Linked DNA regions of Homo sapiens. The protein of the gene in region 1 binds, or shares a complex with, the protein of each later gene. Each region holds a gene or a part of one and is shown on either strand. Other genes may lie near its edges. The genes, in order: POLD3, REV1 and POLD2.

Evidence for each region.
Region 2: the proteins of POLD3 (region 1) and REV1 are in contact, whole or in part, in an NMR structure (PDB 2N1G), measured with the Homo sapiens proteins. Residues at the interface, in NP_006582.1 of Homo sapiens: Gly232, Asn233, Met234, Met235, Ser236, Asn237, Phe238, Phe239, Gly240, Ala242, Ala243, Met244; in NP_057400.1 of Homo sapiens: Asn1158, Leu1159, Ala1160, Gly1161, Leu1171, Leu1172, Glu1174, Trp1175, Ile1179, Met1183, Glu1184, Glu1185, Asp1186, Gln1189, Val1190.
Region 3: POLD3 (region 1) and POLD2 share a complex: the UniProt entries of both Homo sapiens proteins name them as parts of the both the DNA polymerase delta and DNA polymerase zeta complex.

The regions. Positions count from the first base shown.
Region 1 is NC_000011.10:74,636,316-74,645,472, forward strand, and holds the end of POLD3 (DNA polymerase delta subunit 3), read left to right. Parts: intron 1-4,248; coding exon 4,249-4,451; 3' UTR 4,452-6,761; downstream 6,762-9,157. UniProt on the Homo sapiens protein: Accessory component of both the DNA polymerase delta complex and the DNA polymerase zeta complex.
Region 2 is NC_000002.12:99,485,272-99,496,026, reverse strand, and holds the start of REV1 (DNA repair protein REV1), read left to right. Parts: upstream 1-6,009; 5' UTR 6,010-6,210; intron 6,211-6,615; exon of another isoform or gene 6,616-10,755. UniProt on the Homo sapiens protein: Deoxycytidyl transferase involved in DNA repair. Transfers a dCMP residue from dCTP to the 3'-end of a DNA primer in a template-dependent reaction.
Region 3 is NC_000007.14:44,118,671-44,128,736, reverse strand, and holds the start of POLD2 (DNA polymerase delta subunit 2), read left to right. Parts: upstream 1-5,188; 5' UTR 5,189-5,226; exon of another isoform or gene 5,227-5,557; coding exon of another isoform or gene 5,558-5,558; exon of another isoform or gene 5,559-5,850; intron 5,851-6,277; exon of another isoform or gene 6,278-6,627; coding exon of another isoform or gene 6,628-6,683; coding exon 6,684-6,903; intron 6,904-10,066. UniProt on the Homo sapiens protein: Accessory component of both the DNA polymerase delta complex and the DNA polymerase zeta complex.

The DNA.
Region 1 (9,157 bases):
CTTATTACCACAGAGGCACCATAATCCCTTTTAGAACAGGTACATCTCAAACTTTAATTTACATGTGAATCATGCCCAAGTGGTACTGATGCTGTTTGTCTATGGCATACACTTTGTGTAGCAGAGTGTAAGTCAGAACACCTAGGTTCTTGTTTAGGTCATAGACTATAAAAATAAGCACTGAGATCTTGGCTAAAAGTTATGTCGTCCCTGGTGAAGAGTTTCTTATCTATGGAATATCTATTTTGCCTAAATGTGCAGTTATGAAGATTCAGGTGGCATAAATATATCCAAAAACAAGATGGAAACCACAGTATGGGCTTAAGATGTTATCATAGACATTGAGAAGCTTTTTTTTTTCTAGAATATTTGTTTTTATAAATTTGAACAGTGGAAAAGAAGCTACAGATGATTAGACTGTAATCAAGAGTCATCTTTGGTATTTGGTTCCATTTGTTCTTCAGAAGGGTATGACTCATCGAGATTGCTTCCTTTATGTTTCCTATTTGTAAGCCATGTTAGGTAAAAGCATGTGCTTGTTATGAAGGCCTAGGGAGGAATTAGAGTTCAGGCTTTGAGTCATTGGCTAGTTCTTCAGCCATGTTTTAGCTTCTTCTACCCTTTCCATAATCACACTAGACTTCTGTGGAGCTTTTAAGATTTAGCACTTGAGGTTTGATGGGATGCTCAGATCCTGGTACTGTATTTTTGTGTTTGAAAAGAGTTGTGGGTTTAGGCTCTTACCTTTGTTAGTTGGATAGCCCATGGTTGTCATTTTGCCTTTTGTGGCACCTGCTACAGCTTGGATCTTCAGAGAAGATTATTTTCCCTGTTACTGATTTTTTTTTTTCCTAGTTCAGACTTGTTTTGAAAAGATTGGCTCTGAAGAATCAACCTTTCCAGGTTCTTAAAACTAGTGAAGACATTTTGTCATCTGTGCTCCCTGTCCCACTATTCCCCACCTCCCAGTCCTCTGAAAAGGCCTCTGCCATTTTAATTGTAACATGTGATTGGGGAGTAAAATTCTTTACGTGTGGAAATTCTGTCTTTTCAGTGCCAAATTTCTTGTGAACCTGTGAATTCTGGACTTTGAATGGGTTTTTTTTTTTCTTTTTCTTCCTTTTTTTTTTTTTTTTGGCTTTCAGTCTTTTAATAGTTGCCATTTTCAAGCCTCTTGGTTTGGCCATGGGTGATAATATATGTGTTTACTGTTGAATTTCTTAATTCAACAGTGCATTTTTTAAATTTAAGAGGACAAAAACATTGGTGCCAGTTTTTTCCTCCTCTTTCTGCCCCAAAAGAAAAAAGTCAAACGTCTTTGTGAGAGTGAGAGTTCATTGGGAATTTGTGGGTAATTATTTATTGCTTTGTTTAAAATATAGTACTCGAGTTTTGGCCAGGTGTGTGATGTGGACTTTTTTGCACTCCTGTCTCCAGACAGGACTGTTAAGAGCCTTGGATGCAGCAGTGAAAACTGTGCTCACATTGCACTTTTTTTTTTTTTTTTAAAGGTTTTTGGTCCAAGCTCAACCTAATGAATCTTGGCTTTGGTTACCAACAAAGGAGTTCTGCTTTCCTCTCTCTGCTCAGACTGTTCCAAATGTACCAGCATAGGGGGCTTGCCCTGTCCTGTGCTGGATCAGATTTGTTCTATGGGTTTAGAAAGCTCATCTTTCTCTCTTTGTGACTTTGCAGCAGAAATTGGGTAGTTGGGCCCCTGAGATAAGTTTGGAGTAGACTTCTGGACAAGGGAATGGGTTTCTAAGAGCAAAGCAGTTAAGTGGAAAAGAAATCTGATGTTACCCACGAAAACCAGGTTTGTTTGCCTTTTTTTAATGGCAACCCAGAAAAGTGGCATGTTGTTCAGCTAAAATAAAGGCCCTATATTTTTAATGGAGACCTCCTTTTTTCTGGGGTTTGCGGTAGCTACAGCTTTGAATATAGAAATATTCCTTTTAGTTCTTACAGTATACTGAATATGCTGCTAAAGAAATTTTGTTGGTGCTGCCCTGACTGTTTTTTAACTCCCCTGAGCAATGTCTCACACAAAATTGGCAATGAGACAGCCATTGATTTCATTAATAAGTAATGAAATAATGAGCTAATTGATGCTGAAGTATAATGTAGACATGCTGCCATTTGAGTACAGAATATAGCTTATGAAGGAGCAAAGTCTTATACCACCAACTAGTAGAAAGTAATTTCCTTTCTGTATCTGTAGATGGCTCTTCAGACTTTTCTAATTTAAGATATTGAATAAATAACAGCTCGTAATTTTGTCCCATTAATTCAGTTACATAATGCTTTTGAAGATGCATGTGAGATGGAGGTGGTGTTCTGGGGTCTAATTGCTGAACGAATAGGTATGCCATGGGAATTCTCTAATTATCTTAGAGCAACATTTCTCAAACTTTGCCGGCTATGTGCATTACTTGAAGATCTTGCTAAAATTGAAATTCTGCATCAGTAGGCCAGGAGTGGGAACTGAGAGTGCATTCCTAATAAGCTCATGGGAGATTCTGTTGCCTCTGGTGTGCGGAGCACAATTTGAGTAGTAAGGCCTTTCAGAATACTTAATATATATCTAAAATTTATCAGTATTTTTTAGCCTCTAAGTGAACATCAAAGTGAATTCTGGGCTCTTACAAAATTAAAGACAAACTCTGGGAACTCTCTGGGAAGGGATTGTTGATTATGCAGCCTTAATGGGATTAGCTGGATAAGAGGGACGGAATGCTCCAGTGGCAATTGCACTTCAACATTTAAAACAGGGAAGGAGAGAACATTAATTCCCAGAGTGTGGTCCCCAGACCAGCAGCATCAGCATTATCTGGGAGCATGTTAGAGAAGCAAATTCTCAGGTCCCACCCCAGATCTGCTGAGTCTGAAACTTGAGAAACAGAATCTGGCAATCTATGTTTTAACAAGCCCTCCAGGTGGTTCTGATGCACAGTAAAGTTTGAGATGATATCTTAAGTAGCAGAGTAGGTATTGGGACACACATACATTTGATTCCAAAGCTTATGCCTCTAGAACAATTTGATATATTTTATTAGAAAGAATTATCAATAAAAGCTCAAGACTGTCATTGTTCTTTAATGGAAAAAAAAACCTTTTACTTTAATCATTTGAGCATTTATTATGCATATTAGGTTACGCTTTTCAGCTAAGAACAAGCTCTTTTCCTTCAATGTTTCTCTATCGCTTGCTGCAACCAGGAAGGCTGAGAAAGAATTTAGATAGCATTGGTTATACAGCTGCCACAGCTCTCTAAAATTACAGAAAGGTGGCATGCTGTTTCTTGTGGTTGGTATATGTGTTGCAGTAGTGTAGATCCTCCTCGGTTATGTGACGTCATGGCTGGAAGCCACTATCTGTGCCTGTGTCCTTTGGGGCTTGCTCATAATGACTGCTTACTGTTACAGTTCTTTTCCAAGTTTCCCTTGGGAAGGGTTCAGTGAGTTTTAATAGCAGGGGAAAAGCAATTTATGCCTTCGGCTGATAGGGAGTAAGAAAACTGGTAACTTTGTTTCTCAATTTATCACTGTCATTCCTTTAACACGTGTGTCATCCGATAGCATTTGCTTGAGATAGTTAACCTTCATGATACAGACTACTACTAAATTTTGGGTTAATTTGCAGCCATTAAGAACTAAGAACCGAACAGTTGAGTAACTAATCTTCAATTCTCTGTACCTAGGATGTGCAGAGAGTGGGTGGCATCAGGTTAGAGCTAGACAGGAGGGTCCATGGTGACCTTGGTTAAACAGAATGGAGGCAGGCAAATAGGCCAGCAGTTTAAGACCAGTAACGGGAATAGGCAGGCATTGTAGGTCAGAGAGGTGATACTTAAGAAGCCAGTCAAAGCATGGAGTTAGAAGTAAGTGTTTAAGATATAGACAATTCGGATATAGAGTTCAGGAAGTTAGCCAGCATAGGCCAGGACCCAAATAAAGGATTTAGGCAATTCACTGATAAAGGGCCATTTAAAGGCATGGGATATAGCTGTGAGGGAGAAAAGTGAACGTTAATTCTAAGCATCAAATAGAGACTGTGTGAGCTCAGGATCCCACATAGTTCCTACCTTAGGCTAGATCTGATCTCCCAGTGGGAGAAAGATTGAGTCCTAAGTAAGCATATTTGCCTTGATCAGAGTCTGAAATGATTGGGGTTAGCAAGACATCCCATTTTCTTCATAGAGTAAATGATTCAGCCCACCCATGTTCCATTTTTTTCTCATCCTACCAGTGACTGAAAAAGTCTACGAGAGTGAATCCTGCACAGATAGTGAAGAGGAGCTTAACATGAAGACATCCTCAGTACACAGACCCCCTGCCATGACTGTGAAAAAAGAACCCAGAGAGGAACGAAAGGGCCCCAAGAAAGGGACTGCTGCTCTGGGCAAAGCCAACAGACAGGTGTCCATTACTGGCTTCTTCCAGAGGAAATAAACTGCCATCTCTGGTAGATCAGAGACTTGGAGTGGTCAAGGGAGAAGACCAAGAAATGTACTCCTCACTTACTATGTAAGTTCATCTAGATCTCCACCTCACCTGTATCAAAAGACTGTTCTTTCATCCTGTGAGGTTTATACTATTTCTGGTTTTTAACCAAAAGGAAATCATCTGGAAGCAGGAGGCAAAAAGCTGTTACCTTCTAATGACATTTAAAAAGCACAGTCTTTGACCTGTCCAGGAGAAGGATTTACTCCAAAATTATACTGGAACAGTTTTCAGAATTCTCACTGAAGCCATTTAGTGGCTAACCCACTGTGCTCCACTCACCCTATGCCCTGGTCCGCATATGGCACAGGAATTATTCCTTCTTGTTCCTCTGTATTCTAAGAATTCATGTGGGTGTTTCTTATCCTTACATTCTGCTGGATACGTTTACCCCTCTTGTCTTCCTGCAGTACCACACTTCTGTCCCCTAACCTCCTGAGGCTGTTCTCTGTAAGTCTTTTAAGTTTTGGTTGGACTAAAGGCTGAAGTGAAAATCTCCCTGTAATCCTCTTCCTCCATTATGCAGTACACGGACACCTGGCTACAGACCAGGACGTGGCTTGTGTTCTGTTCCTTTCACAAAAGCTCTCTGGGACCTTCACTTGCAATTAGTGGTTAGGGAAAAGCCTCAGGCAGAACACAAATAGAAATTTAATGATGTGTTCAACTCCACCAGAAATTACCTCGAGTCAGCATTGACGATATTGGAGGAGCTGCCGTGCTGCTGATACGGGGTGTGCTTTATGCTGCTCTTTGCGGTTTGTTGATCCCCTCCTCCCCCACTCTCAATACCTAGAGAGTGAAACCCGTACAATGAGATAAAGACTAAAAAGAGAAATCCCTTCCTATATACAGTGTGCTACATTTACAAAAAATTTCTCCTTAAGAAAACAGAATATTCAAAAACAGCACTTTTCCAGGAAGTTAGTGAGGAAGATAAGGCACACATTTATTTATAAATGGATGTTGCTCCTTTGTATTTTTAGCTTCCCTATTTGCTTAAAAGTACAGGCTCCCTAAGAGAGGATGGAGAGGGAGAGACTGAATTGTTAGTAGGTCTAAACATCAAAGAAAACATTTTTATTAGTTACTTATGGAAAATCATCTATTACAATGATAACCTTCAAGTGACTTCCATTATGGCTGGACAGGCGGTGAGCTCAGTGGATTGCAGTGGTGTGCTGGTGATTTTGCACAGTGAGCTCTGCGGAAGGGGTCAGGCTCAACTGCTGATGTGTCTCACACGTAGCAGACAAGGGGTGTCTGACTGGCTTCTTTTGCCTCAAGATGGTGTATGTCGTAAGTGATGCAATCAGCTGTCTGCTTTTTAAGGTTGGGATTGTGCTGACTTTGGGATTAACATGAGCTTCTTTAGCAACCAAGCATGAACTTGATTAAGACCAGAAGTTTGGGAGATGAGTCCTGGCATTATGTCTAGGACTAAAGCAGTGGCTTTGTATAGCAAGCTGAGTAAAGGTTGACATATTCCAAAACCCTTCTTTTTAAAAGGAAAAAGGATGGAGAGAAGGATGGAAAGCCTGGACTTAAACCTTTAGAAAAAACTTCTGGAGAGAAATCCCTTTTAAACAGTTACTTTTGTCATTGCCTCTGGTCATTTGTCTAAATAGGAATGGAAAATTAAAAGAAAAGCAACAATCCAATCTTTTTTCTAAAAATTATGCTGGGGTCTCGACTAAAACTGAATTTGAATTGGAAAATTCTGGTGTTGGTTGGAGTTCCATCTTGCAAGGGATAATACAAATCCTATGATCTCTATGCCCAATATGCTGCCTCAACTCTGAGCTGTCTGCAAGGCTTAGTAAGTATTGAGTGGTGTTTTTTTTTTCTTTTTATACAATACCATGTTAACCACATGAGTTAAATAAATTTGAGAAGTTGTTTTAAAACAGTGCTTCAAACTGAGTATCTGATGAGTCTCTTATTTGATGGATGGTAACAGTGTTGCAATTATTTAAGCTCTGAATGGGAAGAAGGCTGGTTTTCAGTTGATATTGTTAAAACTGCATACCCACAGTCTGAGATGAACAAGTTATTTGCTGCCTTCATCGTTTTTTTCAGCACTGGGGAAATGTTAGTTTCAGCCAACCTCATTTTTTAGTTCATCTAGAAGAAAATCTAGCACATTGTATTAGTTTGGCTTCATCACTTGCTAGCTGTATGACTGTGGGCAAGTTTCACAGCCTCAAGTTCTTTATCAAAATAAAACTAAAATGAGTTACCAAGGGTGTCAAGACTAAAGTCAAGTGTATGTAGCATGAATTCGGTCCATGTTGGCGGTCACATACGCGCTCTACAAAATGGTGGCTTTCTTTCTGATGTCATAAGTGATGTAATCAGCTAGCAGCTTCCTGAAATGTTATCAGTTATACGACCCAGGTGGTATATTCTTCAGTCATTCTGGCTGTACATGTAGTAAAAAGGGGAAGATAGTTGTCCTATTTCATGAAAGGTTTAAAGAGAGTAGATATTTTCCTACTGAAGGAATTATAGATGCCTATATTTACTGTTCATTTATTGTGTATCTACTATGTGTCAAGCCCATGACCTGGGGACTAGAGGATATAATAGAAACCATAGAATTTGGCACTTGATCCTCACAATTTAGTGGAAGGGAAAGCCAGTAAAATGAAATGACAGTGCCATATGTGAGTGCAATGTACAGGGTCCTCCAAGAGTTCCCAGGAGGATGGGTATCAAGGCAGTCTTCCTGGAGCAAGCAGTTCTTTGAATGATGAGCAGGATTTCACCCAGCAAAGAGGAATGGAAATGACTTTCCAGGCAGAGGAGCATGGCTTTTGGGAGAGGTGGGCTGTAGAACTTGAGAATAGGGAGGAAAATGTATTCAGAAATGAAGTTGGGGCCTTGCTAAGCAGTTTGGATTTGATTTGTAGATAATGGGAGCCAACTGAAGAAATTTAAGAAGAGTAACAGAAGTTGGTTCTCAGTTAAGAGTGACAGCCAGTATTTACTTTGATTTTGTATCCATGATAGTATTTCTACCCTTGCATATGCACATTGTATCTTAAAATTCTAGCGGGATTAAAGAAAACCATCTTGGTTAAAACAAGGCCGCTTAATTCTGGCAGTCAGCATAGACAATTGCAGTGTTTCCCTTGTCTTCCCCCGTCAACATAGATTTCTGTAGCAGAATCAATTTTTTAAAGTGATTTCAAAAGCTGGTATTTCTTCTTTGACACTCTCAGTGATGAGCCTCCACTCACCTCCCTGGAAAAAACTGGGAATTCAGGGGCAGAGGGGGCTGGTAAACGAGTGAAACAGTTCTCTATTCCTTTTCTATCTTTGTTTCTTTAAGAAGACATTAGTTATTATACAGGAGAGGGCTGAAGAGAAGGGCCATATAAGGAAACTAAATAGTTTCTCCAGGACATGAGTAGAATGAGTGCCTAATAATGTATTTGCCAGAAACGTACTCTGTGTCAAGACTCGTTTTGGTAAACTTGTCTCCTTTCATTGGTTCCAGGATCTCAGTATGCTGTAATGCAGCTTTTACCACCATGAAACATTTTGGGGCTGCCTCGTTTTGTTGTGAGAAGGCAGTATTGCTTTCTGAGTTATTGCCCTGGCAGCTCTGTAAATTAGCCCATGCTGTCACCATGCCCTCTCTGAAGGGCACATTGTACCCAAATGACTGCATTTAGGATTGACTCTTACCACTCCCTGCTGCATGACACTTTTCTCCACTTGTATCTGTGTCCAGTTTTTTGTGTTCTTAGGTGCGGACCACCCACAGATTACCACCCAGGCTCTTTAGCCAGAGAAACTTGGTAAGGCTTCTGATCCAATATTTTTCCATTGGATCAGAATCCACCTTAACTCTACAATTCCCCTTCTACTTCAAACCCTTAATGTTTTCTGAACACCCATTCCCCTTAACTGTTCTCATTTTCTCTTTCCAGACTCCATGTTTCTTGAGGTTTCACCTTGGCTCCCTGTACCTACTTTCTTAATATTCAGAGTTCTTCATGGCTGGTTCTTCAGCTTCATTCTTTTGGTGTTTTAGGCTTTCTCAAGGCTCTTCATGGCATGTCTTTTACCGGACTGCTCTTGAAGAATGGAAAAACTACTTTGTTTAGTGTCTGTTTGGGATCAGTCAGATCCAAAGCATAAAGCAGTTATTGGAAGCTAGTTATGTTTAGTCCTGGATAAAATACTTTGGGGATTGTAAGAGCCCGTAAGTTACCATTTTGGAGTGACAAGACAAACATACTAAATAGCATTTAGCATTTGACACAATGCTTAGATGAGTGATAGACATGGGACTTAATAATTTAGGAATGAATTAGGATAATCATTATGGGCAAAATATTATATTCCTATGCAAAGAACAATAAAAGATTTAAAGAAAGAAACAGGCTGAGGTAGGCTAACCATTTTATTGGGTGTTATTCAGCTATTTGAACTTCACTTGCCACTTGTACATTCACGGTGTAAGTAAACCATGATTTAGTGAATCTTTAATTAATGGAGTTATTTCTGTTGTGCTTTAAGCATGAGAGTATTGACGAGAAAGCAAGCAGTTATCAGGAATTACTTCAAAAGGCAGTTTATACAATATAAAGTCTGTATAGGCTCCACTCAGTTTTGTACACACTCAACAATTTTGACCTACTAGG
Region 2 (10,755 bases), on another chromosome or scaffold:
CAAATAAACAGAGATATAGGTGAAACTTGAAAGATTTCAAAATAGGAAGAAGCACGTTTACCTTGAAGGGAAAAATAAATGATAAACAAAGCAACACAGAAAGACCAAATCAGAGTATACAACAATTTAGAAATGAAACACCTATTGTGTGAAAACGACCAGCAAAAAAGCTTTGGGAAAGTCACTGGAATTTTTTAGAAGCACCATTTGGTCTCATTTTTAGACACAAACTAGTCACACATAACCAAACTTTGGGCACTTCTTGGGGTCATCGCTGTGATTATCAGGGAAAGCCAGTGGCTGGGCCGTCCTGCACACATCAATTGTTAGTAAGGATTATTTGCAAATTCCCACATGGGAAATTAATTTCAAATGCTGAGTCAGAGGCGGAAGTTGTCCAATTTAAGAGTCAGCAAGAGGTAGGAAAGTGGCCCATCAGAGTCACATCTAGGAACAATAGCTGATATCCAGGAGGCTGAGACTCTGCTTGGCTGCTTTTTAAGAAGAAATTATAGTTTATCCCAGTTAGTATGGGAGGTTCTTTGAAGAATGCCAACTAATAAATGCAGAAGGAATTATGGAATTAGGAAAACATCCTTTGCAACCCACTAGATATAGTTTGGATGTATGTCCCCTCCAAAACTCATGTTGAAATTTGATCCCTAATGCTGGAGATGGGGCCTAGTGGGAAGTGTTTGGGTCATGCAGGCAGATCCTTAAGAACAGTTTGGTGGCTTAGTGCCATCCTGAAAGTGATGAATGAGTTCTTGCTCTATTAGTTTTTGAGAGAGCTGATTTTTGAAAAGAGCCTGGGACTTCGCTCTCCCTTGCTTCCTCTCTTGGAATGACATGCTGGTTCCCCTTTGCCTTCTGCCATGACTGGAAGCAGCCTGAGTGAGGTTCTCACCAAAAGCAGATACCAGAGCCATGCTTCTTGTACAGCCTGCAGACCTGTAAGCCAAATAAACTTCTTTTCTTTTCTTTTTGAGACAGAGTTTCGCTTTTATTGCCCAGGCTGGAGTGCAATGGCAGGATCTTGGCTCACTACAACCTCCGCCTCCCAGATTCAAGCGATTCTCCTGCCTCAGCCTCCCTAGTAGCTGGGATTACAGGCGCCTGCCACCATGCCCAGCTAATTTTTGTATTTATAGTAGAGATGGGGTTTCACCATATTGGCCAGGCTGGTCTCAAACTCCTGACCCCAAGTGATCCACACGCCTCGGCCTCCCAAAATGCTGGGATTACAGGCGTGAGCCACCGTGCCCAGCCTTCCTCTTTTCTTTATAAATTAACCAGACTCAGGTATTCCTTTACAGCAATCAAAATAGACTGAGACATCAATAAAATGGTTTATTCAGGCCAGAATCATTAATAGATGCTGAAACCATATGGTGAAAGATTGCTGAAGAGGATATCCACTTGGTAAAAAAAATTACCACTCTAGAGCCACCGCACCTGGCCTGGCCCTACCTATTTAATAAGCAAAACTGTTAGATATAGCTTTTGGCAAAACTCTTAGGGATGCTGGGAAAAAATTACTGAGGTACTAAGGATGCCATGAACAGAGAATGTTTGGGAACCTCTGTCCTAAGACCACTACTATATTAGAATGGAATATACTGAATGATGTTCATCCTTCTGACCTGGAGCCATCAAGATCGTATTCTGGCTCACTGCCCCTTGCTCCAACACGACTCCAGTCTTTATTCTTGATGATTTCGATATACACAGAGATGATCTTTCTCTCACTCTGGCCCCTCATATCCTTGAACTTCTCTCTTCCATGACTTTGTCCTCCCTTGTATCTCAGCCACTAACTCCCTCTGCAATCTTGTCATTGCCACATGTAATGTAATGTTAATACCTGACTCCAAAGAGCCTTTCAAACAACCTCCATGCCTGCCCTTCAGCCCCCGCCCATTGATATCATCTTTCAGCAACCTCCACCTACCCTTGGCATGTGCTCTCTCCCCTTCAGCTTAAGTTCCACAATCAATCATTATGATTTCCCACTTGCCTACACCCTCAACTTCCTTGCCTTCTTCTTGTTTCATTATATTGCTTTACAGACCCCCTACCCTGGTGAAATCTAGCCCCCTAATTTCTCTAGGCTGCACCTGTACACATGGACTATTGCAAGACCCCGTGACCACCTCTCAAACCCATTCTCCATGCATCAGCCAGAGAGACTTTCAAAACTCACTTTATTGCCTAAAACCTTTCAAGGGTTCATTGCACCCTCAGAATACAGTCAAAATGCAGTAAGATACTTTATGGGGCCTGATATGGTTTGACTCTGTGTCCCCACCCAAATCTCATCTCAAATTTTAATCCTCATGTCGAGGGAGGGACCTGTAATCCCCTCGCCACCATGTCAAAGGACGGAGGTGATTGGAACATGGAGGCGGTTTCCCCCATGCTGTTCTTGTGATAATGAGTGAGTTCTCACTAGATCTGATGGTTTTATAAGGGGGTCTTCCTCCTTTGCTTTCTCTTCTCTCTCCCACCACCTTGTGAAGAAGGTGCCTGCTTCCCCTTCTGCCATGATTGTAAGTATCTTGAGGCCCCCCCCAGCTATGTGGAACTGTGAGTCAATTAAACCTCAGTCCTTTATAAATTACTGAGACTCAGGGAAGTTCTTTACAGCAGCGTGAGAACAGACTAACACCAGGCCCTTCATGCGCTGGACCCTACTTGCCTCCCCAACCTCCCTTTTCAACATGGACCCTTCCCCACAGCCCACACCACTCTGCACTTTGCACTCTGCAGTTTCTAAAATGTTCCCTGTTCTCTCTCCTTTCTCTGCCTTTGCACATCTCGCTCCCTCTGGAAATGGCATTTCCTAACCAACTGGACTAGTCTCTCAGAACTTACTGAGATGTCACATTTTTAGGAAGCCTCCCTGACACCTGTCCTGTGTGCTTCATAGATTGCCCTCAAGTAACAGCCCTGAGCCTGTACTGCAGGTACCTGTTTGTTTGCCTCCTTCACTACACTGGGAGCTTTTTGGGGGCAGGCAATGTATTTTGTCCACTGTTGACCCTACAGGGTCTGGCACAGGGACAGGCATATAGAATGTACATGATAACTGATTGTTGCATCATCCTAAAATCTGTGAACAGTGTTGCTTAAATACAGATATATACACCTGTCCATGTATGTTTGAAAGAGTTCAGTCATATTGTCAAACATGATGGTATGTTTGAAAGAGTTCAGTCTTGGTGAACCAATTCCACTGCCAATTTCCTAAGTTTCTGTGGGTGTGAGATCATTCTGCCTTATTATTTCATCTTTCAGCATAATGCACTGAATCCTTATTACAATCAGCACACTCTTTCCTATGGAGTAAATCACATGTTATTGTGTCTACATCAGCCAAGGGACTTGAGTACAAACCTCTGTTTTTAGTAGTTTCATGCTGTTTGTTTTTGGTATTTGAGAGACTAGATGTAAATGTTTCCAAGGAAAGTTTACTGCCAGATACAGAGGTGAAAGGACAGAAGTCATGTCCTTATCCATGGCTGTCCCTCCAAAGGTCAGTGGTTGGCACTTTCATAGGCCTTTTGAGATAGCAGTAATGAAATGAATTTTAATGAGGTTCAGAAAACGGAAATAAGGTACAGTGCCCCAAAGCACTCCCCCAAGTGTAGGGGTCCAGCGCGGCCATCTCTAGACCCCCAGAGTGGCCCAAAGGTCAGCCTGACTCCCCTTACATGAGAAAGATAATCCTATGAGAATAAATATAAATAGATAAGTGGGTGAATAAATGTAGGTGCATGAAATTGAAACAAGAGGACTTCATTATGTGATGGCATAAAACATAATATTCTGGAATGGACAAAAATAAAACTTTGGACTGGGTGAGGTGGCTCATGCCTGTAATCTTAGTGCTTTGGAACACCTAGGTGGGAGGTTCGCTTGGGACCAGGAGTTTGAGGTTACACTGAGCTATGATCTTGCCACTGCACTCCAGCCTGGACAACAGAGCAAGACCCTGTCACAAGGATGCTAGAATTTGTCCATAAATACATTTTTATTTATGTATTCCCCATCTCTCTTTTTATCCTATTTTATGTAGACAGCAACGTGATTTTTTTTCGTCCTTTACAGAGGCTGCCTACTAGTTTGCAGTTAATACCATTTTACTGTATTCTATAAAGGTATTGCCAAGGTCAGTTGGCTCAAGGTTTGTGTTTCTTCCTTGAGAAAAATACAAAAAGAAGAAAAAAAAAGATCTTCGGTTTGAATACGAGAGTGGAAAAGAAAATTGAAATACAATCGTGCAGGAATGCTGCCATTTAGACATTTAAAACAAGCAAAAGAACAACAACCAAAACAAAACTCACCCATAACAAGGGGTTACCACTGTTTTTCTGTAGCATCTCAGCAGATGACCTCCTGGTGTTGCAGTCGGCAACTGGTCGTGAGTCTGTTAAAATTATGGGCAGGCACGGTGGCTCACGCCTATAATCCTAGCACTTTAGGATGCCAAGGCTGGTGGATTACCTGAGGTCAGGACTTCCAGACCAGCCTGGCCAACATGGTGAAACCCCCTCTCTACTAAAAATACAAAAATTAGCCGGGCATGGTGGCGCATGCCTGTAATCCCAGCTACTCGGGAGGCTGAGGTGGGAGAATCACTTGAACCTGGGAGGCGGAGGTTGCAGTGAGCCGAGATCGCGCCATTGCACTCCAGCCTGGGCAAAAGAGCAAAACTTCGTCTCAAAAGAAAAGAAAAGAAAAGAAAGCAATTACGCAATTTGTTTTAAATTATGACGTCTTTGAAAAGTATGCAATCTAAATTCGTTGGATTAGCGACGAGAATACTGAAGTTGAAGTGCATTTATAGAAGTCTATAAAATGGCAAAAAACTGAAAGGGAAAGAAATGAGCTATTTGAGTATTCTCTGTGTTGCTAGTAAACAAGTTCCAACTCTGCAAATCAGTTTTCAAAAGAATACTGATTGTTTCCTAAGTACCTGCAAACTCTGAAGCATTTTAGGCAAGGGAATGAGTGGGAAAAAAGTATCTTCATGTTTGTGCATTACAACAATAAAGACTATTATGTAACAATGTGGAGTCTTCAAAGCGACCCTGCCAAGAGGGAGAAAGTGGTCCTTATGGACGGATTGTTTTCTGCTAGAAGGCCCTCAATTAGAATTGTACTTACGCATACATAATATAGGATATTATTTTTATATTCATAGAAAACTGCTTTCTCGGGTAACTCCAGCGCTGTACATGGGATGGGATACCGGCCCTCCGTTTACAAATACTCAGGCGCAATGCTGCCCGGGCACTCAAAGGACAGAAGATAGTGTCTGTGCCCTGCGGGAGCAGGCCACGAATCCCGAAAACGCCGTGGCGCAGTGCTCCTTCCCGCGAACCTGAGTGGGCCGTGGTTCTCGGTTGCTCTGGACATAGGAAAATGTCAGTTCATGTGTGTCCCTTTCTCCACTAGATGTCACTGTAAATCAATTGCTTAAGGAGGGAACCCGGGCGTCTGGCGCATCTTCACACAGTACCGGGGTTTGAAGCCCGGTCAGTGTCTGCACTTGTGTCCTTCCCCACTGGGGAGCCCCAAGGCGGGGCAGGCGCGGGGACTCGCTGTGCACGGAGCGGCGCGCTGTCCGAATGGCAACCGAAGAGCCGCGACCCGGTCAACGAAGCGCGGGGGTGACCGGAGCAGGACGGGCGGGCAGGCGGCGCAGTGCGTGGGCGGGCCCGCGCTGCGCTCCCCTCCGCCCAGCTAGCGAGACGGTCACGTGCCGCCCAGGCGCTGCCCCTTGCGGGCGGCTGCAGAACAACAGGGCGGGGCCGGGGAGGGGAGGAACACGGAGGCCGACGCCGGGCGCCGCGGTGCTACGCCCGAGGCTGGGGTCGCCCCGGGCCGGGGGGAGCAGAGCGCGTGCGCCGCGCGGCTGTGAGCGCGAGCGGGGCCGGGGAGCGCGCGCGGAACGCTAGGGGGCGTGGCTGCGGCGCGCGCGCTAACCGGAGGGGGAGGGGCGGAGAGCCACCGCGGAGCGCGCGCGGGGTTGGTTGCCGCGAGCGTGGGGGAGCGTGGACCGCGGCGCTGCTCAGCGGTGGGGCTGCCTTCCCCCGGCCCTCCTCCCTGGTCCCTGGCGAGGGCACTGGCGGCGGCGGGGCCGGGGTCCGCAAGGCCGGAGAAGGCCGCCGGGCCCGGGCATGGTGGTCTGGGGCAACGCGGAAGGTGAGCGACCCCCGGGCCGGCGGCGGGGTGGGGGAGGGGCGGGATCGGACACGCGTCGCCCGGAGGCGCCGCAGACCCGCCCGGCAGCGGCCAGAGCGCGGTCGGCCTGAGGTGGCGCGGGGGAGGGGTGCGTCGCCCCGGCCCCGGCCCGCGGCCGTCCTGTCGCGGCCTGGGCTGTCCACGGCGCCTTCCCCTGACGCTCGCAGCCGCCGGGTTATGTAATGTGTGACCTCCCCTCCCCTTCCCTTCCGTCATGGCGCGGCCGGCCCCGCGCCGCCGCCAGCCCCATGGGCCGCCCCGCGCCGACCCCTGGCGCAGCGGCCCTTCCCTCCGCGCCCGGCCGCATCCCGCCGGCCCGGTCAGACCGCGCCGCAAACTCCTTCCTCCTGCGCCGGCGCCTCGGCCGGCCATTCAGTTCCGCGCCATTCATTCACGCGCGCGTTCGGGCGTTCGTTCCACAAGCGTTTGTAGAATGTCGACCCGGTCGAGCCGCCGCTCCCACCCGCACTCCAGCCACAGCGTTTTTCCGCACCCCGCCTTCGACGTCCCCGGTGCATCCCAGAACCGGTCGGAATGTCCGAAGGCGGTTGTTGCTCCCTTGTTTTTCCTTGCTGCTTGTCCGTTCGCTAAATACGCTGGGCGCCGTTCCCCAACTGTCCTTCCGAGAGCCCCTTGCCCACTTCTGTACTGTTACAGTGACGCCGCTCTGGGCGCACCGAGCCGCGCTGTGTTTCGCTGCTCTTCCTACCTATTCTCAGTTTGTAAAGAAATAATCTCACATAACACTCCTTAATGTACTCCTCCGTAAGATAAATTGCAGATAATATACGTCTGCTAATTCTCTTTATCTCCACGTCTTCTCACGCCATGTACTAAGTAGAAATGGTTTCATTTAGGTGAAAATAATGCAGACTAGCACATAGCACAACAAGGGCTTGTAACTATTAAGGACTTTATGTAACAGTCTGTAATTCTGTGTATCTGTCTGGTCTTTCCGGACTTGGCACTTTAGTCTCCGAGAATAAGCCATTTCCTGTTTAGGTAGGGTAGGACCAACCATAACCTTGGTTCTTTCTATGGAGTTCTGTATGTAGCAAATCAGCCTGTGGGAACCATCTATCTGTCCACCAACCTTTCACACATATTCTTGGGTTTGCCCGTGCAGGGACCAGTGCTGCGTATTGTTCCCTGCCTTCCTGTACTGGACACTTAAGAGCTCACCTAAAGTTCCTCTTCCAGGAATCATTCTCCAGTATACAAGGCTCTCTTCCATTCAATTCTTAGGCTATTTGCGCCTTTTCCTGTGTTGCGTTTATCTTTTTAGCCCTGTCTTCTCTTACTGTGTAGGACCTTTTGAGGGTAGAGTCTGTACCAAACTCCTATCTTTTGTTGTAGAACCTTAACCGCTATTTTACGGTAAACCGTACATATTTAATTTTTTTTGTAAAGATGGGAATTGCTCTTTTAAAATTAATTTCTATGAGGTCTCAAGTAGAACATAATTTTTAAAAAATAATGTGCTTGAATATATAAGATCACTACATTTCCAACTTCCCACTCGCAACTTCAAAACTCTGATTCTACATAAGAGCATTAAGGAAACGTTGTCCTCACCAGCAACAAACTGGTCATTATTCATAAGAAGTTGCAGTGACTACATATAATATATATTTGAAAGCACTTTCTTTGATAGCTGCTGTAGTGGAAAGACAGGAAGTTCACAGTTACATGGAGGTTAGATTTCTGGCCCTACAAATTGTTAGCTGGTGACTGGACAAGTTAAGTTACTAGTATCTCTGATTTTTTCTCGTTTGTAGAATGAAGATACCATTTCCCACCTTGGGTAGCTGAGGATTAAATCAGTTCTTAAACGTGAGACATCTAGTGACACCATGGTACTCAGGAGGTGCTCAGTAAATACATATTCCCTTTGGTATACCTGTTTATTGCAGTTCACAATCTAGAATGAGCCAGGATGTGCTAGAGACAAAGCGTGAGAGGAAAGGTAATCAGAAGAGGTGACAGGTACCTCTCGTCTCCAAATAAATGAACAAGTCCTACACTAAAGAGCATTGTGGGTCTTTCTGCTTTTCAAGAATGTATGGGTGTGTATATGTGGCGTATTACTAATCATAGAGTATATTAAACAGAACATTTAAAAATGAAAAGTTTTTTTTTACTATAATAGCACCAACTGAAGCGTTAACATGGACATTAAAAAATAATCTTATTTTTTTCCAAAGGCAAGTCAGGAGACGAGACGGGAAAAGGGATATTAAAAAGGCTCTTTAGAGGCAATTAGGTTGCAGGCTCTTCTGTTAGCATCTACTTATAAACAGTACATGAATCCTAGTCTAAGTTCCATTATCTCTTGGTTGGAGTGTTTCCATAGTGCCTTTACTGGTTTATTTCTCTTGCTCCCTGACTGTTCCCTAGGGATTCACCTTGACAACCAGAGGGATCTTTTTAAAAATGTAAATCAGATTGTCACTTTCTTGCTTAGTGTCCTCTAAAAGCATCCTGTGAACCACTTACATTTGAATCTTAGTCGCCATCAGGGCATAGCATGATTTGGCAGCTGCCAGCTTCTAACGTTACCTCTTACTAGGTGACTGACTTTCAGCAACCTACCCCAGTCCCATAGTCATTTTGCCGGTTCTTGAACAAAGTGTTTCTTCCTTAGGATGTTATACTTACTATTCTTTTAGCTGGACCACCCCTTCCTCTAAGTGGTCAAGGCTCTTCATGTCTTGTCTTGTGTTTCTGCTCAAATGTCATCGCCTCAGGCCTTTTCTAATTCTAAAATAGGAACCAGCCCCTTCCTTTATAATCTTTTATTCTTTATTCTCTTTTTCTCCATAGCATTTATTACTAGGTGAAGATACACTGTTTTTTTTTTCCCACTTATTTATTTCCCCCCTTAGACTTGTTTGCTGCCAGCCCTGTTCTCAACAAGCGAGCAGAGGTCTTGTCTGACTTGTACACAGCTTTATCCCCAGTGCTTAGAACTGTGCCTGGTACATAGTAGGCTGTCAGTAAAACTTGTTGAGTAAATGAATAGTATAGTTGATTTAAATATTGGCTCTGGAATCAGACAGCTAGGGTCAGAATTCTCTGGCTCCCACCATTTACTGATTGAGACTGTGGGCAAGTTAATAACTTGGTGGTGCCTCAGTTCTGCTCATCTGTAGGATGACTGTAATAATACCTACCTCACAGGATTATGGTGAGTAATAATTGAGTTAATGTATGTAAAGTGCTTAGAACAGGGTAATTTTTTTTTTTTTTGAGATGGAGTCTCGCTCTGTCGCCCACACTGGAGTGCAGTGGCACCATCTTGGCTCACTGCAAGCTCCACCTCCTGGGTTCACGCCATTCTCCTGCCTCAGCCTCCCGAGTAGCTGGGACTGCAGGCACCTGCCACCACGCCCGGCTAATTTTTTGTATTTTTAGTAGAGACGGGGTTTCACCGTGTTATCCAGGATGGTGTCGGTCTCCTGACCTCGTGATCCGCCCGCCTCAGCCTCCCAAAGTGCTGGGATTACAGGCGTGAGCCACTGGTCCCAGCCCAGAACAGGGAAATTTTAAACCTTCTAGGAACTATTTGAAATTAGCTTGTTCACTTAGGATTTTGTATTTTGGCATGAGATAAAGGTGGGTTAATTGAATTTTTTTCTTTTTTAACATTTTTTGAGACAGGGTCTTGCTCTGTTGCCCAAGCTGGAATGCAGTGGTGTGATCACGGCTCACTGCAGCCTCAACCTCCTGGGCTCAAGCCAGCCTCCCGCCTCAGGCGCTCGAGTAGCCTGCACTACAGGCATGTGCCACCATGCCTGGCTAGTCTTTTAATGTTTTGTAAAGATGGGGTCCTACTGTTTTGCCCAGGCTGGTCTCAAACTCTTGGGCTACAGTCTCCTGCCTCATCCTCCTGCCTCATCCTCCCAAAATGGTGGGATTACAAGTGTGAGCCACTGTGTCTGGCTAAATTTTATATTTATTACTTTGGTGCTGAATTTTTGTTAGCCACCAAAATTGTATTTATGGAACGCCTTTAAAAAATACATTTTGTGGATGTCTAGAGCAAATTAAAAAATAAACTGTTGAGAATGGTGACTGGTGTTTGGTCTTAATGTGTAAGTCAGGTTTTTTATTTTTCAATCTGTAGAAGATGCTAAGAGTGATTATCTCAACAACCGCCCACCAGAGTGGCTTTTATAGAGTTCCCTTTGAAGTTCAGCTGGAGATCTGATTGTGGTGATGAAAGGACTTGCTGGAGGCTTCGTGTCTTCAGACAGGAAAGTCCTTGAAGATCCAGTTGAAATATGAGTCTTGTAGTATTTGGGAAGGAAATTTTTATCATCTTTAGTTGTGTTCAGTTTCTCCCTTCTTTCACTGGGTTTTTCCCCTCAGATTATATTTGGTTATTAATTGGAACTTAAAGTAACCCAGCTGTGCTCTGTATCTTTCTGTTCTTTTCATAATGATTTATTTTTCTTTAGCAGATACAGAAATAAGAGAAGAAAGAATTGATGGAGACAGTGACTT
Region 3 (10,066 bases), on another chromosome or scaffold:
TACTTTATGCTTGAGTTGTATCCAGTTAGTTTCTGTGGCTTGCAATCAAGACCCACACCCACCTCAACCCAGGCTCTAGAGAGTAGACCCTTGTTTTTGCCTGGCTTGGGTCGACCTGGCACCTGCCAGGGTCCCAGCCTCTGAGTCAGCCCACCTTGCCCTCATCGGTGCCACCTCCAGGCGGCTGTACATAGACTCTGGCTTCTGCCCTGGCCTGGCCTCTGGGAACTGCAGCTGTCTGCTTCCATCCTATGTGGATGGTGCCTGAAAGTGAATAGGGATCAGTTACCAGCCCAGTATCTGTCCCCTTCTCAATAGCACTGATTCCTATGGGGAACTGCTTTTCTTGGACTATGTATGGGTTTGGTGGGAGGGTAGTTCCTGTAACCAACCCTACAGGGTGTAGGAACCTAGACTCTCAGCAACATAACAGGCAGCAGGCTCCCAAGCTAAGTCTGGCCAGCTGGGCCACCTCTCCCAGATTCTGTTTCATGAGAGCATCATCCAAGAGCAGTGGGAACACTGGGGACGGTCCAGCCTAGGACTGGTATGCAGATCAGAGAATCCCAGATAGAAGGTGATTGCTGTTCTTCCAGTTTCTTGGCCCTCCAGAGCAACCATACTTCCCATCTGCCCCAAAACCTGATCCTCCAAACTCCCACCATTTCTGTGCATCCCCAATATCTAATAGATCAACTGCCTTTCATTTACATTTGTCACAACCAAATGATACACCTGCCCTTCACCCACTACTGAACTGCAGCTGGGTTAGTCCAAATTCAGGGCCCACGTGTCATTTCAAGCCTGTCTTGAATAATGTACACCTTCCTGCAATGTGAGGATGGCCACCACCTTGGTCTTATACCCACGGGTGTCCTGAGCTACATTTCTCATAATCAAAAATAAACTCAACACATCACTCCAGCCTGAGCAACAGAGCAAGACACTAGCTCTAAAAATAAAAAATAAAAACAAACAAATGAAAAACCCAGCAAACTTGGGGAAAGAGGAAGCACCTGATTTCCAGAGTTTCCACATCATGAGATGCAAATGTCCAGTTTTCAACAACAACAACAACAACAAAAAAAAAATCACAAGGCATACAAAGAAATAGGAGACTAAGACCCACTCAAAGGAAAAGAATAAATAAGCAGAAGCCATACCAGAGGAAAACCAGATGGCTGACTTACTAGACAAATACTTTAAAACAACTGTCTTAAAGATGCTTGAAGAGCTAAAGGAAAATGTGAACAAAGTCAAGAAAGTGATGGAACAAATGGAAATTCCAATAAAGTGATAGAAAACTTTTTGGAGTTTTTTTTCTTGGTAGCAAAAAATTATGAAGCTGAAGAATACAATAAATTCCCTAGAGGGCTTCAAAGGCAGATGTAAGCAAACTTGGCCAGGTGCAGTGGCTCATGCTCATAATCCAGCACTTTGGAAGGCTGAGGCAGGAGGATTGCTTGAGCCCAGGAGTTTGAAACCAGCCTGGGCAACATAGAAAAACCCTATCTTTAAAAAAACTTATATAAAATTTAAAAATTATAAAATTTATTTAAAAAATCAGCAATTTGAAGACTGGACAGGGAAATTATCAAATTTGAGGAACAGAAAGGAAAAAGATGGAAGAAAAATAAACAGAGCCTAAGAGACCTGCGGGACACCATCAAGCAGACTAATACCCATTGTGGAAATTCCAGAAAGAAAAGAGAGTGAAGGACCAGAGAGATTATTAGGAGAAATAATGGCTGAAAATGTCTCAAATTTGATGAATGACATGAATATGAACATTCAAAAATCTCGACAAACTCCAAGTAGGAAAAACTCAAAGATACTCATACTGAGATTCATCATAATCAAACTGCTGAAAGCCAAAGACAAGGAGACAATATCAAAAGCTGCAAGAGAGAAGTGACTCATCACATACAAGGGATCTTCAAAAAGATTATCAGATATCTTGGCTGGGCACGGTGGCTCACACCTGTAATCTTAGCACTTTGGGAGGCCGAGGCAGGTGGATCACTTGAGGTCAGGAGTTTGAGACCAGCCTGGCCAACATGGCAAAAACCCATCTCCATTAAAAATACAAAGATTGGTGAGGCATGGTGGTGCATGCCTGTAATCCCAGCTACTCGGGAGGCTGAAGCAGGAGAATCACTTGAACCTGGGAGGCGGAGGGTGCACCAAGCCAAGATCGTGCCACCACTGCACTCCAGCCTGGGTGACAGAGTGTGACCTTGTTTCAAAAAAAAAAGAAAAAGAAAAAGAAAAAAAAGATCATCAGCTATCTCATCAGAAACCTCAGAGGCCAAAAGGCAGTAGATTGATATATTCAAAGTGCTAAAAGAAAAAAATAAATCTGTCAGCTGAGAATCCTGTATCTGTATCTCACTTAACCATTATTTTAAAATAAGGGAAAATGAAGACATTCCCAGATAAACACAAGCTGAGGGAGTTCATTATCACTAGATCTGCCCTGCAAAGAAAGCCAAAGAAAGCCTTTCAGGATGAAATGAAAGGATACTAGACAGTGACTCAAAGCTGAATAAAGAGGCCAGGCATAGTGGCTCACACCTGTAATCTCAGCACTTTGGGAGGCTGAGATGGGCGGATCACCTGAGGAGTTGGAGACCAGCCTGGCTAATATGGTGGAACCCCATCTCTACGAAAAATACAAAAATTAGCCAGGTGTGGTGGCACATGCCTGTAATCCCAGCTACTTGGGAGGCTGAGGCAAGAGAATCACCTGAACCCAGGAGGCGGAGGTTGCAGTGAGCCGAGATTGTGCCACCGCACTCCAGCCTGGGTGACAGAGTGATACCCTGTCTCAAAAAAAAAAGCCGAATAAACGAATAAAGATCTCATCTATGGCCGTACCACCCTGAATGTGTCCAATCTCAGAAGCTAAGCAGAGTTGGGCCTGGTTAGTACTTGGAGGGGAGAAATAACGGTCTATGCTAAAGGAAAATTCAGGTGCAATTAAAGTAAAATTAATTATATAAAAGAGAATACATTAAAAGCTAGTATTATTGTAACTTTGGTTTGTAATTCCACCAAGTGGAATTTGTTCCTGAAATGCTAGAATGGTTCAACATAAAAATCAATAAATGTAATAGACCACATTAACAGAAAAAAAACCCACACGGTCATCTCAATTGATGTCAAAAAAGTATTTGACAAAATTCAACACTCTTTTGAAAGAAGAAAAAGCTCAACAAACTAAGAATAGGAGGAAACTACCTCAAATAATAAAATCCATAGGCCAAATCCCCAAACTCACAGCTAGCAACATATTTAATGCTAAAGACTGAAAGCTTCCCCTTTAAGATCCGGAATAAGACAAAGATGCCCACTTTCACCACTTCTACTCAACATAGTATGGGAAGTTCTAGCCAGAGTAATCAGGTAAGAAAAAAGAAATAAAAAGCATCTGAATTGGAAAGGAAAAAGTAAAATTATTTGTTTGCCCAATACATGTACAATGTTTCAGGTGAAGGCTCAGAACAGTACAACCTTACCAGCAAGAGTCCTGCTGTCTCTGTGTGAATCCCAGCTATTACTCACTAGCTACATGATCTCTCTTGCCCTCCCTGCCTCAATTTCCTCATGTGTAAAGTGGGAGAAAAATAATAGTTCATGCTTCAAAGGTTTTTTGTTTGTTTGCTTGCTTTGAGACAGCGTCTGGCTCTGTCGCTCAGGCTGAAGTGCAGTGGTGCAATCTTAGGTCACTGCAACCTCAGCCTCCTGGGCTTAAGCGATCCTCCCACCTCGGCCTCCCAAAGTGTTGGGATACAGGCGTGAACCACTGTGTCTGACCCAAAGGATTATTTGAGGAGCAGATGAATTAATGTGTCATAACCTCAAAGCAGTTGCAAAGGCGTTTAATAATTAAAATATCACATTTTAAATTAAAATATAAGGCTGGGCGTGGTGGCTCATGCCTGTAATCCCAGCACTTTGGGAGGCTGAGGTGGGAGGATCACTTGAGCCCAGGAGTTCCACACTAGCCTGGGCACCATTGGGAGACCCTGTCTCTACACACACACGCACACACACACACACACACACAAACTTAAAGTAGCCAGGCGTGGTGCTGCGCGCCTGTTGTCCCAGCTACTCGGGAGGCTGAGGCGGGAGAATCACTGGAGCCTGGGAGTTCGAGGCTGCAGTGAGCCGAGATCGCACCACTGCACTCCAGCCTGGGCCACAGAGCAAGACGCTGCCTCAAACAAACAAACAAAAACAAAAATTAAAATATTAAGTAATAATTAACGAGTGTTAATATCCACTCGTTGTGGAGACAAGACCTGGACTTAGGAAACAGGCCCAGGGAAGTAGCAGAACAGTAGCGCTAGAGGACGCCTGGGAGAATCAGCGCGCGGCGGGAAGAGCCCGGGAAGCTTAGTGGGGAAGCGTCTCTTGATGGGGTGAGGAATTCTATAAATTAGTGGAGATGGAAAAAAAAAAAAAAAAGTATTCCCAAAGTGGGAGACAGCACTCAGAAAGACGTGGTGGTAAGAACGAGTATGAGTAACGGGGACAACGAGGACACTGGAGATTGGGGAGTGTTGGGCTGGAAGCTGGTGTGCAGCTGTGGGCAAGCTAGGGAGGACCCCGAAACCGCCAATGCGTTTCCCGGACGCAGACGCTGGCAGGACGGGAGGAACCCCGAGACCCCGCGCCATCCCTTCAGGAAGAGTTACTTCTCCCCGGCCAAGTTAGTGGGCCTTGGGCCTTCTTTCTGTTGGGATCCTCCTCGCGTGTCGCCATCGCTACAAGTGGGCAGCTCTGCGGGGAAAGCTGGGACGCTGGGGGCTTCACCAAGGAGGCTGGCGGCCGACCACTGGGAGGTCTGGCGGGGTGACGACCACTGGGAGGTTTGGGCAGGGCCTGACGGGGTGACGCGGTCAGCCCACTGGAGGCCGACACCCCCCGTCAGCCCAACCCCTGCACGCGCGGCCGCCAACCAAAGACCCGCGGCGCCGGCCTGCGAGCCCCCGCCCCGCGTTGCCCAGGAAACCGAGGGTGTGGCTCCGCGTTCTCTGGGCGTCCCAGGGACTGGGCGCACAGTGGTCGGCGGGATGAGGCGCCTGGTGACGGACGGGGCGAGGAGGGCAGCGATTGGTGAGATTAGGCGATGGGCGGGGAAGCCGCGCGGGGATTAGCGAGTTGCGGCGATGGGCGGGGCAGGCGCGCGGGGATTGGCGGGATGCGGCGCGCCGCGCGGTGAGTGGGGTCCAGGGAAACGGGGTCAGCTGGGGGTGGCAGTTCCAGGCCGCGAGGCCGGGCTCCTGGGTCGGTGGGCTGGTGTCTTGGCGGACGTCCCGCAGCTGCCGCGTGGATCCGAGCCGGGGCACCCGCCGTGACTGGGACAGCCCCCAGGGCGCTCTCGGCCCCATCCCGAGTAGCGCGGCCTGGCTGCTGCCGCCATCAAGCACGTTCGAGCCAAAAGCTCCTAACGAGTCACTCGTTAGACACGTGTGCGGAGCCTGTGTCCCAGGCCAGTGCTGTCCCGTGGAGATAGATTGCAAGCCGCTAGGGAATTTTTTAACTTTCTAGTAGGTGTACGAAAAAAGTAAAACGAAACAAATCAATTGGAGTAAATCCATAAATATATTCAAACTATTATTTCAATTGTATGTGAAAAAATTATTGGGATATTCTTTGTACTATTCTTAGAAATCCATTGTGTGTCCAACCCAAACATCACAGTTGGACTCACCACATCTCCTGTACTTCGTAGCCCTAGGTGGCTAGTGGCATAAGACACAAAAATCTCAGCTCTCCTGGAGCTTATGGTCTAGTTGGAGCAGGCAGACAATACATTTAAAATATACAGTTTGTTAGAAGGTAAATGTTGTAAACAACAATAACAGTTGAAGTACTGGGGAGAGTTGCAGTTGTAAATCAGATGGGCAGGGCACAAGGTAACATTTGAGTAAAGATGTAAGAACTTGAAGGAGATGGGCAAGTGAGCTCTATAAGTATACGGGAGAGGGGCAAGCAAGAGTTCAGAGGCCCCTTGCTGTGGGGAGGGATCCAAGGTGGAGGAGTGGGAACCAGGAGGGGAGAGGACCAGTGGAGCAGATCTCATAGGCAGTTGTAAGGACTTGGGGCCTTATTCAATGAAATGAGGACACTTTGGAGAGTTTTGAACAGAGCAGTGACTGATTTATGTTTTGGTTTTGGTTTAGTTCTATTATTATTTAATAATAGGCTTATTATTTCACAGAAGTTTTATTTAATAAGGCAGACCTCTTGTCTGGAAATGAGACAGGTGCCGGAGAGCTGGATGGAGGCAGATCGGGAATTCCATTTGGGGCAAACTGAACTTGATTGAGACCCTGGTAGTTGTCCAGATGGAACAGGACACCTGAGTCTAGGGTTCGGGAAGAACTCCAGATGGGACAAACACTCCTAGCTTTCCTTTTCTCTTTTTGGATGACCGCTACAGGGTGAGACATCGGTATCCAGGCACGATAAATTTCCAAGTGGACACAATGTCTGGTGTCAACTACAGCTGTTCTCCTTCTTTTCCCAGTATCCTTTGGGTGCAGTGAGACACCAGGAGAGCTGCTGCTTTGGGGGATGGACAGGGGCAGCAGGAATGCCTTTGTGTTTTCGCAGTGAACCTCCTTGGCCTGGGCGAAGCTGTGTGGACCAAGCAAGTCAGGAGTGTGGCCATGTTTTCTGAGCAGGCTGCCCAGAGGGCCCACACTCTACTGTCCCCACCATCAGCCAACAATGCCACCTTTGCCCGGGTGCCAGTGGCAACCTACACCAACTCCTCACAACCCTTCCGGCTAGGAGAGCGCAGCTTTAGCCGGCAGTATGCCCACATTTATGCCACCCGCCTCATCCAAATGAGACCCTTCCTGGAGAACCGGGCCCAGCAGCACTGGGGTAAGTGAGAGTTTGGGAAGGTGCTTCCCCCACAGCATCCCTGAACTTAGAAGTGTTCTGCAAGAGAATGGGAACAGTTTATCTAATTGATCCCACTTCCTGTTACCTTGGGAAAATTAACCTCTTTTTCCCTCAGTTTCTTCTTAAGATAGTAACAAGGATTAAATTAAGTAATTTGTGGGTTTGGAGTTAGTTTTAGTTCAGAGGCTGGTTGGAGATGAGGACTTAGTTCTGGCGGTGATGGCGATTACTTCACTGGCAGAGGAAAATGGTTTTCCTATCTTCAGTGCAGATTATTCAGGTATTTGCCTGTGCTGTAGCCAGAGAGCCCCTCAGTGTGGCAAGCCTGGCGCCAGGCACCAGGAGCCAAGACTGGTGAGGATGCACTCTCTGGTCTCGAGGGGACCCCCTCTGTTCACTCATGTCTGTTTGCCTCTCCTCCTGGCCCCCATATTTGCTGGCCATGAATTTTCCTGTCCCTTGGGCCCTCTGTCTTTCCTAATAAAGTGGCCTGCCCAACACAACCCTTGTTCTTTGCCCCCATTTCTTCCCTGGTGATCTCTCCTGCAGTTGGATTACTCTTGGTGGTGAAGCAGGGACCCCCATCTCCCCCTTTGAGTTTATTTGAGTTTTAGGTGCTGCTGCATTCCCCCATTCCTACCACTTACATAAGAGTGGCTTTCCAGGTAATTTTCAAATCCATCTCCTATTATATTTTTAAACTGAGGATTTAGTAGGTGAGACCAGGTCTTACTCATTTTTACTGTCCTTGGCACCAGGCAAAATGGATCTCAGCCCTAGTTGCACATTGGAATCCCCTGGGGAGCTTTGAGAAGCCCATCTCATCCCATGCCAAGCCAAGATCAATTCTCGTTATAGGCAGGCAGGAGAACCCTGGGCCTAGAAATCTAGCTAGAACCTCAAATTCATTAGGGATATGTATTAGTCCATTTTCACATTGCTATAAAAAACTACCTGAGATAGGGTAATTTATAAAGAAAAGAGGTTTAATTGACTCACAGTTCCTCATGGCTGGGGAGGCCTCAGGAAACTTAACAATCATGGCAGAAGGTGAAGGGAAAGCAAGGCTCTTTTACATGATAGCAGGAGAGAGAGAGCAAGGGGAACTGCCAACCATTTTTAAACCATCAGATCGCATGATGGCTTGATCTCACTCACCATCACAAGAACAGCATGGGGGAAATCCACCCCCACAATCCAGTCACCTCCCACCAGGTCCCTCCGTCAACACCGTGTGGATTATAATTCCAGATGAGATGTGGGTGGGGACACAGAGCCAAATCATATCAGGATGTTTTCTGTTTTGTTTACCTGAGACAAAGTGCTGTTCACCTCTCCTCTCCCACATAATCAGGGGCTCCCTCCTGCGGCTCCGGTAGCTTTTCCTCACTTTCCTTTCAGCCCTCGGGACACCTTCCTTGGCTCCTTTCAGAGCTCAGTTACTACTTGGGCCCAATGTCAATGCCACCTTCTAGATTCTTTCCGGCAGCACCTCCTCTGGTCGCACATTTCTCTTCCAGTTATTGGAGCTGTCAAAAAAGCTCCCCAGTGATGGACGATAGCGATTTCACTGTGCTCACAGACTGGTCAGGAAACCAAACAGCTGCCACAGTGAATGTGTTGATAGCAGCGGGGCAGCAGTAGCACTCGCTCACAGGCCTGGTGGTTGGTGCTGGCCCCCACCCTGAATACCTACATGTGGCTTCTCCATGTGGCCTGTGCATCCTCACTGAAGCTCAGCCTGTCTCTCCAAATTGGTCTTTCCACTCACCTGTTCCCCAAACCTGCCCAGACCTTCCTGCTGTAGGCTTTTCCCTTCACTTGGCACACTCTTTCCCTTGTCTTCCCATGGCCCCATCTAAGCCCCACTGTCAGCTGAAGTGTTATATTCTTTGAGGGGCCACCTGAAGCCACCTTGCAATGAGGGCCTCCGTTTTCTACCTCAGCTCACCATTTGTTCACAGCACTTGTCACTGTGGCGAGTTACTTGTCTATGGCCTGTTGTCGTTCTCCTGCCTAGACCCAGTGGGCTGAGTGGGGGCAAGTGTTGGCTTTTATGTCCAGTTTTGATCTTGGTGCCAGCACATTGCCTGGGTGGAAGCATGTCCTACTATCGGTTACAGGGATGTCATTCTGCCCAGTGCTCAGGGGCATACACTTGGATCCCAGTTGTGTGCCCTTGGACACATTGCTTAACCTCTCTGTGCATCAGTTGGGTGATAATATCTACTCCTGGCACATTTTCAGCGTTGGCTGAGTTACATGTACAGTGCTTAGGCCACCTGGGGGAGAGTAAGAGTGGGATACGTGAGGATGTGGAGTCTGTTGCATTTCTGTCTGCTGCTGGCATCCTTCTTGTCTTGTTTTGAGTTGCTCGCCTCTGTCTGCTCCCTAGGGCGTAGATTTGAGGAATATTCCTGGTTCTTCCCAGGCAGCAGGGGCTCAGGCTGTGCTGGAGTCAGCTAGGCTAAGGGGCTGGTCTGGCATCCGCGTTGTCCTGTCACCTCCTTGGTGTTTTCTCCAGGCCTGGATCTGTGCTGTGTGGGCACCTGTATTCCTCCCTCCTGCCCTCACTGATTCTCCATACCTTTCTTCTCGAGAGTGCCAAGCCCCTCCCATGTGTTCTTGTTCATACCTAGGATCCCGGGAAGGGGCTGGGGAAGACGGTGCCCAGGTGCCCTGGGTAAACAAAGCCACCTGACTCCACGGGAATGGAATGGGTGGAGGGGATCTGAGGTCTGCATTTTGAGTATCTCTGGTCTCAGAGGATGAAGCATTTGGTGGGGGTTGGGGGTGGGGGGTAGGGTGGAAGAATCTAAAGTCTTAAAAGAAAATGGCAGTTATTTGTGGGACAGGGCTGTGTTGAGACTTGGCATGCTTCTTTTTAAGAGTCAGTGTTGTAATTTAGGTATAAGTGAAGCAGTACTTTGTATTAGTTTCCTGTAGGCGCTGTAACAAAGCACCACAAACTGGTTGACTTAAAACAACAGACATGGCCGGGCACGGTGGCTCACGACTGTAATCCCAGCACTTTGGGAGGCCGAGGCGGGCAGATCACAAGGTCAAGAGATTGAGACCATCCTGGCTAACACGGTGAAACCCTGTCTCTACTAAAAATACAAAAAAAAAAAAATTAGCTGGG